Regions from separate parts of the Homo sapiens genome. Here all the other regions are linked to region 1. Evidence: fine-mapped expression QTL. A gene starts in region 1. Each other region holds a variant in brackets. All regions are shown on one strand. Distances are between the middles of the regions.

Region 1 (2,500 bases):
AACCACCGCGCCGGACGCCCGGTCTTTTTTTTTTTTTTTTTTTAAGACATTTCGGTCTCCACGTTGGTCAGGCTGGTCTCGAATGCCCGACCTCAGGTGATCCTCCTGCCTCGGCCTCCCAAAGTGCTGGGATTACAGGTGTGAGCCACCGCGCCCGGCCGGTTCACACCCTTTATTTGTATTTATTTTTTTTTTTTTGAGACAGGGTCTCACTTTGCCGTCCAGTCTCAAGTGCAGTGGCGCCATCTCGACTCACTGCAACCTCGACCTCCTGGGCTCAAGGGATCTTCCTACCTCAGCCTCCCAAGTACCTGGGACCACAGACGCGAGCCACTGCCCGGCTATTTTTTGTATTTTTTTGTAGAGACGGGATTTCGCTATGTTGCCGAGGTTGGTCTCTAACTCCTGGGCTGAACCTATCCTTCCGCCTCAGCCTCCCAAAGTGCTGGGACGACAGGCTTGAACCACCGCGCCCGGCCTGGTTCACACACTTTAATGGCACTTACCACATACTGCTAGGCATTGAGGTTATTTCTGTAACATCTCTTCTTTTCTACTAGATTCTATGAGGGCAGGAACTAGGTCTTATTTTTCTCTGAGGACAAGGACTGTTAGACAAGTGTATGGAGACGCATCTAGACCAACTGCCTGACTTCCTCTTTCCTCTGGGTTTACTTCTCCCTCCAAGAGGAGGGTTGTGTGTGTGAGCGGGGCGACTGGAAAACATAGTGTTCAGGACGTTGTATCTTGTTCCAGGAACTAAGTACACGCCTGGGTAACTAATGTGGAGTACCTCTCCTTCCCCTGTTGCTATCGCCCCTCTGTGGCTGCTTGGCAAGTAGCTCAGTATGAAGAGCTGACGGAATTCTGCGGTGGGCCAGGTGGCTCTGGCGTCGACTGTTTAAGGCGACTGTTAATGACTACAACACACCATTGAGTCTTGGTCCCAAGGCGCTGGTGCACATGGTACTTCCCGAAATCCCTGTAGGGCCGCTGGAGCAGGAGCCCCGATCCCACGTTTGGGCAGCTGACTCGCCTAAGGCCTCCAGCTGAAAGCGGAATTGCAGGGGTGAGAATGAGCAGACCTAACTACCGGGCTTCTCGCACCTGGCCTGCATTTATTTAGGACCACGATAACCTCGAAGGCCAGGCTGGGGTGCCCGATGGGTCGTGGGCTTGCTGCCTAACTCCCTGAGATCGGCGGGCTGAACAGAGCTTCGAAGTGTAGCGCCATCCTGAGCAGAGGAAGGGGCGCCCGAAGGCCGCGTAGCGGGCGGCAGGGCGGGAGGAAGTAGCAGCTGCTGCTCCCCGCCCACCCCTCTCGCGTGTGCCTTTCCGCTCCACTGTTCGCCGGTGAGCTAGGTGGCGCGAGAGCGGAGGGGAGAAAAGACAGCGGCTGCAGGAGCCGAAGGCCGCGGCTCGAGGTGGGGCAGGGGCGGGCACGCGAGCGTGCGTGCGTGGGCGCGGTCTATAGCACGCCGCGCGCGGGGCGGATGTCCGGGCCGGCTGGGCCGGGGCCGCGGAGGAGATGGCGGAAGGTGGAGGCTGCCGTGAGCGACCGGATGCGGAGACTCAGAAGTCCGAGCTTGGACCCTTAATGAGGACCACACTCCAACGCGGGGCGCAGTGGTGAGCTCCCGGCTCGCTCTTCCTCTATGCAGAACCAGGGGCCGAGAAAAAGGGGCCTCCTTTTTCTCGGCTAGAGTAGGGGCTGGGCGGGGATGGTATGTAGTGACCCTGGAAGAGTAGCCTGACACCTGCCCCTCAGGAGAATAACTCCAGGATCAGCTCTGGGAAAGCGCAGGCGGGGCCTGAGTGTCGTCTCAGTTCATTTGGAGCCCTAGGGGGCGGGCCCGGCGGGGGCCAGGAGGAGGGATGTGGAGAAGGGGAAGGTTGGTGGGGACCCTAAGGGTGGGGAGAGCCCTTTACCATGAGGACTCGCCGTGTGACCTTGGGCGAAGGTGTCACAGACCTGGATTCCTCACTGTTAAAACCAGGATAGCAATATTTGGCTCACCGACCTCAGTGGGTTGAGGGGAAAATCAGAAGTAGATACTTTGTAACTTGTAAACTGCCAACAGATGTCAAGGTCAGAAGCTGAACAAATGTCTGAGAACCCCGATTATTTTGGTAGCAAGTGTCAAAAATATTTGCGGCAGCAGTGTCTTGGAGTGGGAGAGGAGGATAGCCTAGGTCCTGGAGCTAGATAGAAGATGAAGGGTCCAGAATTTAGAAGACCCAGGCTGAGTTATTAGGCATCTTAATAGATTGTTTAGTAGAGGGGACAATACTTTGTACTACTGGAGAGATTCCTGGGTGGTGTAATTGTGTAGGAGTAGAAAAACTAAGGCTAGACTTTGCATCGAGTATGATTGTTACCCATCTTGTTTGTTTTGTTTTGTTTTGAGATGGAGTTTCACTCTTGTTGCCCAAGCTGGAGTGCAGTGGCGTGATCTTGGCTCACGGCAACCTCCGCCTCCCGGGTTCAAGCGATTCTCCT
Region 2 (2,848 bases), 1.0 Mb after region 1:
GTTAAATTTACAAGAGTGTACAGTAATGTCCTAGGCCTTCACATTCACCCACCACTCACTCACTGACTCACCCAGAGCAACTTCCAGTCCTGCAAGCTCTATTCATGATAAGTGCCCTATATAAATGGTACCATTTTTATCTTTTATACCATATTTATGCTGTACCCTTTTTATGTTTGGATATGTTTAGGTACAGAAATACTTACCTCATGTCACAATTGCCTACAGTACTCAGTACAGTAACATACTATACAGGTTTGTAGTCTAAGAGCCATACACTGTACCATAGTAGGCTATACCACTTAGGATTGTGTAAGTACACTCTATGATGTTCACACAACGATGAAATCGCCTAATGACGCATTTCTCAGAACGTATCCCCATCATTAAGTGATGCATGACTATAGTTAGATGAGATCATCAAAGCAATTATCAGATGAATTATGTTTAATATATGTTCGTCTACCACCTTCCCTCTGGGCCCTGGCTGGATGAGCCTGATGTATTTTTTTTCGTTGAGAAAATAATTCGCTTGAATGCTCATGAACAGGCTTACAGTCCCATTTGTATCGTCTTCAGTTAAGGATTAGTGGGCCTGAGAAAGTGTCCATCACTGCTGAGTCTGAGCCTATCACTGTATGTTGAACACCATGAAATCACTGGCTATGAAGTTCTTAAGAGAAGAAAGCAAACCTAACACTTGACAGTAACATCGGAGTTACTGGCCTTATTTTCATATAGCATATAAAGCTGAGACATTTCCACTCATACTTGACTTTTATGATCACCTTTATCCCATCACACATCCAAAATGTGACCTTGTCATCTTCTCTAAGCTCTAACAGACTCTAAAATATTGCAACATGAAAAGTGCCATGTCAGAGTAATGCCAAAGTGGCAGTGCTGCGTTGCTCGTGCAAAAAAAAAACTGTCAAAGTTTAGAGAGTGAGAGTGTACATGGATTTTAGGGAGACTGTTTCCTCAATTTTTAATCAAGTTCAGAGGCCAATGGATGATAATAAATCCATCCAGGCTTCTTCTGAGCTGTATTTACACTGCATTGTGCTTTTCCTCTTAAGCAATCTACTCTTTCTAATCATCTCAGCTCATATCTGTGTTCAAAGACCTGCTGTTTTAGAGAAGTACATGTTTTATGTAACATATGTATGCATTGTATATAATTGACATATATGTATATTATGACACATATATTATATATATATATATCATTTTTTTGAAGCACCTAATACCAAATCAATCCCTTTGGAAATTAAGCTTATATAGTGAGTCGTTATCTTTCACTAAATGATTATTGCCTATTTTGTTAGTCTTCAGTTTTTCTGTTTCAGATTCCTGCCCACTTTTATTGTTTGTTTATTTTTCTTAACTCCTTTTCTCTTACTTATTTGAGTGCTGTTATCCTGGCTTCTCTCTTTATCACAGATCCTTCTGTAGATTTTAAAAATCCGTTTTAGAAACTATTTTCATTTGTCATTTTTCATTATTTAGTCTTTAATGTTAGTCCAGCATTGATTCACTGAGGGAAAAAATCCTTCAATAGAAACATATAATCAAACATCACTCTTACCTTTATAAAAAAACAAAACTTCAAGGCCAGGCACAGTGGCTCACGCCTGTAATCCCAGGACTTTGGAAGGCC[G/A]AGGCAGGCGGATCATGAGGTCAGGACTTCGAGACCAGCCTGACCAACTGGTGAAACCCCGTCTCTACTAAAAATACAAAAATTAGCTGGGCATGGTGGCACACGCCTGTAATCTGAGCTACTCGGGAGGCTGAAGCAGAAGAATCACTTGAATCTGGGAGGCAGAGTTTCCAGTGAGCCGAGATGGTGCCACTGCACTCCAGCTTGGGCAACAGAGCGAGACTCCATAGCAAAACAAAACAAAACAAAAAGAAAAACAAAACAAAACTTCTTAATATTTCATCTCTACTATTACTATTCTGTGGAGCTCTAACTATCCATTCGCTCACTTCTTTTCTCTCTCTCTCTCTCTCTCCTTCTTTCTCCACCTGCTCAGCTGCTTATGTTTCTTTTTCTTTTTTTTCTTTTTTTTTGAGATGGAGTCTTTGTCACCCAGGCTGGAGTGCAGTGGCACATCTCGGCTCACTGAAACCCCTGCCTCCCTTGTTCAAGCGATTCTCCTGCCCCAGACTCTGGAGTAGCTGGGATTACAGGCACGTGCCACCATGCCTGGCTAATTTTTGTATTTTTGGTAGAGACGAGGTTTCACCACATTGGTCAGGGTGGTCTCGAACTCCTGACCTCAGATGATCCACCCTCCTCAGCCTCCCAAAGTGCTGAGATTATAGGCATCAGCCACCATGCCCAGCATGCTTGTCTTTAAATATCTTAAAAATATGCTGGCTTTCTATAATATGGCAAAATCTAAGTTGTTTGATTCCATGCCTTTGCGTTCTATGTCTCAAACTTAAATGATTTTCTAATCCAGACTCTCTTGTCACATTAAATATTCCATTAAATATGTACTTTGAAACTGGGATAATTTTCTTTTAATAAACACGCACATTTAGCATTCTATATCTTACCACTTTCTGAGAACTTGGAATGGAATATTCTGCAGTGTGGGTTAGATCTGGAAAGGGTTCAGATATTCTGAACCTTTCTGTCCCTGACTACTTAGATTTCATTTAGGATAATCTTCTAAGAATACCCATTTGCTGTTTAACACTGACTCTAATTAAAGTTGATTTTTAAAGTGTTTTATTTTATTTTATTTTGAGATGGAGTCTTGCTCTGTCACCCATGCTGGAGTGCAGTGGCACGATCTTGGCTCACTGCAAACTGCCTCCCATGCTCAAGCAATTCTCA
Region 3 (2,848 bases), 860 kb after region 1:
TTTGAGATGGAGTTTTGCTCTTGTTGCCCATGGTGGGCAACAAGTGCAATGGCACGATCTTGGCTCACTGCAACCTCCACCTCCCAGGTTCAAGCGATTCTCCTGCCTCAGCCTCCCTAGTAGCTGGGATTACAGGCATGCACCACCACGCTTGGCTAATTTTGTATTTTTAGTAGAGACGGGGTTTCTCCATGTTGGTCAGGCTGGTCTTGAACTCCTGACCTCAGGTGATCCGCCCGCCTTGGCCTCCCAAAGTGCTGGGATTACAGGCGTGAGCCACCGTGCCCGGTCTCACACTGGTTTCTTTTCTTTATTTCTTTTCGTTTTTTTGAGACTGAGTCTTGCTCTGTCCCCCAGGCTGAAGTGTAGTGGCATGATCACGGCTCACTGCAGCCTCTACCTCCCTCAAGTGATCCTCCTGCCTCAGCCTGTTGAGTAGCTGGGACCACATGCCCAGCCAACTTTTGTATTTTTTGTAGAGAAGGGGTCTCACCATGTTGCTCAGTCTGGTTTTGACTCCTGTGCTCAAGCGATTCTCTAGCCTCGGCCTCCCAAAGTACTACATGCCTGTAGGCACGAGCCATTGCACCTGGCCTCAGATTTCTTTTTTTGAGATGGAGTTTTGCTCTCATTGCCCAGGCTGGAGTGCAGTGGCGCCATCTCGGCTCACTGCAACCTCTGCCTTCTGGGTTCAAGCGATTCTCCTGCCTCAGCCTCCTGAGTAGCTGGGGCTACAGGCACCTGCCACCACGCCTGGCTAATTTTTTGTATTTTTAGTAGGGATGGGGTTTCACCATTTTGGCCAGGCCAGTCTCAAACTCCTGACCTCAGGTGATCTGCCTGCCTTGGCCTCCCAAAGTGCTGGGATTACAGGCATGAGCCACTGTGCCTGGCCTTCTTTATTTTTTGGTTTTGAGACAGTGTCTCGCTCTGTCGCCCAGGCTGGAGTAGCACAATCTCAGCTCACTGCAACCTCCGCCTCCTGGGTTCAAGCAATTCTCCTGTCTCCGCCTCCTGAGTAGCTGGAATTACAGGCAGGTGCCACCACGCCCCGCTAATTTTTGTATTTTTAGTAGAGACAGGGTTTCACCATGTTGGCCAGGCTGGTCTCAAACTCCTGATCTTAGGTGATCCGCCTGCCTCGGCTTCCCAAAGTGTAGGGATTACAGGCATGAGCCACCGCACCCAGCCCACATATTTCTTAAAAAATATTTTCTCCTCAGCTTTACTGGTTTTCCTCCAAGTGTATTAGGGTATAATTGTTTATAACGCTTTTACATTTTATTTTGTTTTACATCTAATTTTGGAAAGTTTCAAATAAGTACAAAAGCAGAGAGAACAATATAACTCAATGCATCCATCACCCACTTCCCGTTACCAATACTCTGACACCATTGTGCTATATATGTCCCACCACTTTTCTTTTTCTGAATTATTTTAAAGCAAATCCCAGACATCATAAAAAGTTCTTCTTAAATATTAGTATTTGGCTGGGTGCAGTGGCTCACACCTGTAATCCCAGCACTTTGGGAGGCTGAGGCAGGAGGATCACTTGAGTCCAGGAGTTTCAGACCAACCTGGGCAATATAGTGAGACCTTATGTCTACAAAAAATTCAAAAAATTAGCTAGGTGGGGTCAGCCCCCCGCCCGGCCAGCCGCCCTGTCCGGGAGGGAGGTGGGGGG[G/C]TCAGCCCCCCGCCCGGCCAGCCGCCCCGTCCGGGAGGGAGGTGGTGGGGTCAGCCCCCCGCCCGGCCAGCCGCCCCGTCCGGGAGGGAGGTGGGGGGGTCAGCCCCCCACCCGGCCAGCCGCCCCGTCCGGGAGGTGAGGGGCGCCTCTGCCCGGCCACCCCTACTGGGAAGTGAGGAGCCCCTCTGCCCGGCCACCACCCCGTCTGGGAGGTGTACCGAACAGCTCATTGAGAACGGGCCAAGGTGACAATGGCGGTTTTGTGGGATAGAAAAGGGGGAAAGGTGGGGAAAAGATTGAGAAATCAGATGGTTGCTGTGTCTGTGTAGAAAGAAGTAGACATGGGAGACCTTTCATTTTGTTCTATACTGAGAAAAATTCTTCTGCCTTGGGATCCTGTTGATCTATGACCTTACCCCCAACCCTGTGCTCTCTGAAACATGTGCTGTGTCCACTCAGGGTTAAATGGATTAAGGGCGGTGCAAGATGTGCTTTGTTAAACAGATGCTTGAAGGCAGCATGCTCCTTAAGAGTCATCACCACTCCCTAATCTCAAGTACCCAGGGACACAAACACTGCTGAAGGCCGCAGGGTCCTCTGCCTAGGAAAACTAGAGACCTTTGTTCACTTGTTTATCTGCTGACCTTCCCTCCACTATTGTCCTATGACTCTGCCAAATCCCCCTCTGCGAGAAACACCCAAGAATGATCAATAAAAAAAAAAAAAAAATTAGCTAGGTGGGATGGCATGTGCCTGTAGTCCCAGCTACTTGGGAGGCCGAGGTGGGAGGATCACTTGAGCCCGGGAGGTCATAGCTGCAGTGAGCTGTGATCACACCACTGCATTCCAGCCTGGGTGACAGATGAGACCCTGTGTCAAAGAGAAAAAGGCCGGGCACGGTGGCTCACACCTGTAATCCTAGAATTTTGGGAGGCCAAGATGGGTGGATCACAAGGTCAGGAGTTCGAGTCCAGCCTGACTAACATGGTGAAACCCCATCTCTACTAAAAATACAAAAATTAGCCGGGTGTGTGGCACATGCCTGTAATCCCAGCTACTCAGGAGGCTGAGGCAGGAGAATCGCTTGAACCTGGGAGGCAGAGGTTGCAGTGAGCCGAGATTGCACCACTGCACTCCAGCCTGGGCGACAAGAGACGAGACTCT

The links. PIP is the estimated chance that this variant, and not a neighbour inherited with it, causes the effect.
Region 2: its variant is fine-mapped to the expression of USP4 in whole blood (INTERVAL, PIP above 0.99).
Region 3: its variant is fine-mapped to the expression of USP4 in whole blood (INTERVAL, PIP above 0.99).

What each region holds. Positions count from the first base shown.
Region 1 is chr3:49,339,053-49,341,552 of GRCh38, reverse strand. It overlaps USP4 (ubiquitin specific peptidase 4), which reads left to right and starts at 1,500. Exons shown (of 22, transcript NM_003363.4): 1 at 1,500-1,629. The coding sequence starts at 1,529. RefSeq lists enhancers at 880-939, 1,030-1,199, 830-1,329 and a silencer at 1,370-1,559.
Region 2 is chr3:48,341,179-48,344,026 of GRCh38, reverse strand. No RefSeq gene overlaps it. Among named protein-coding and RNA genes, the nearest start is that of SPINK8, 8.9 kb to the right of the region's middle. The variant G/A (reference allele first, on the strand shown) is at 1,661.
Region 3 is chr3:48,482,657-48,485,504 of GRCh38, reverse strand. All of the region lies in intron 2 of SHISA5 (shisa family member 5), which reads left to right. Among named protein-coding and RNA genes, the nearest start is that of TREX1, 18 kb to the right of the region's middle. The variant G/C (reference allele first, on the strand shown) is at 1,685.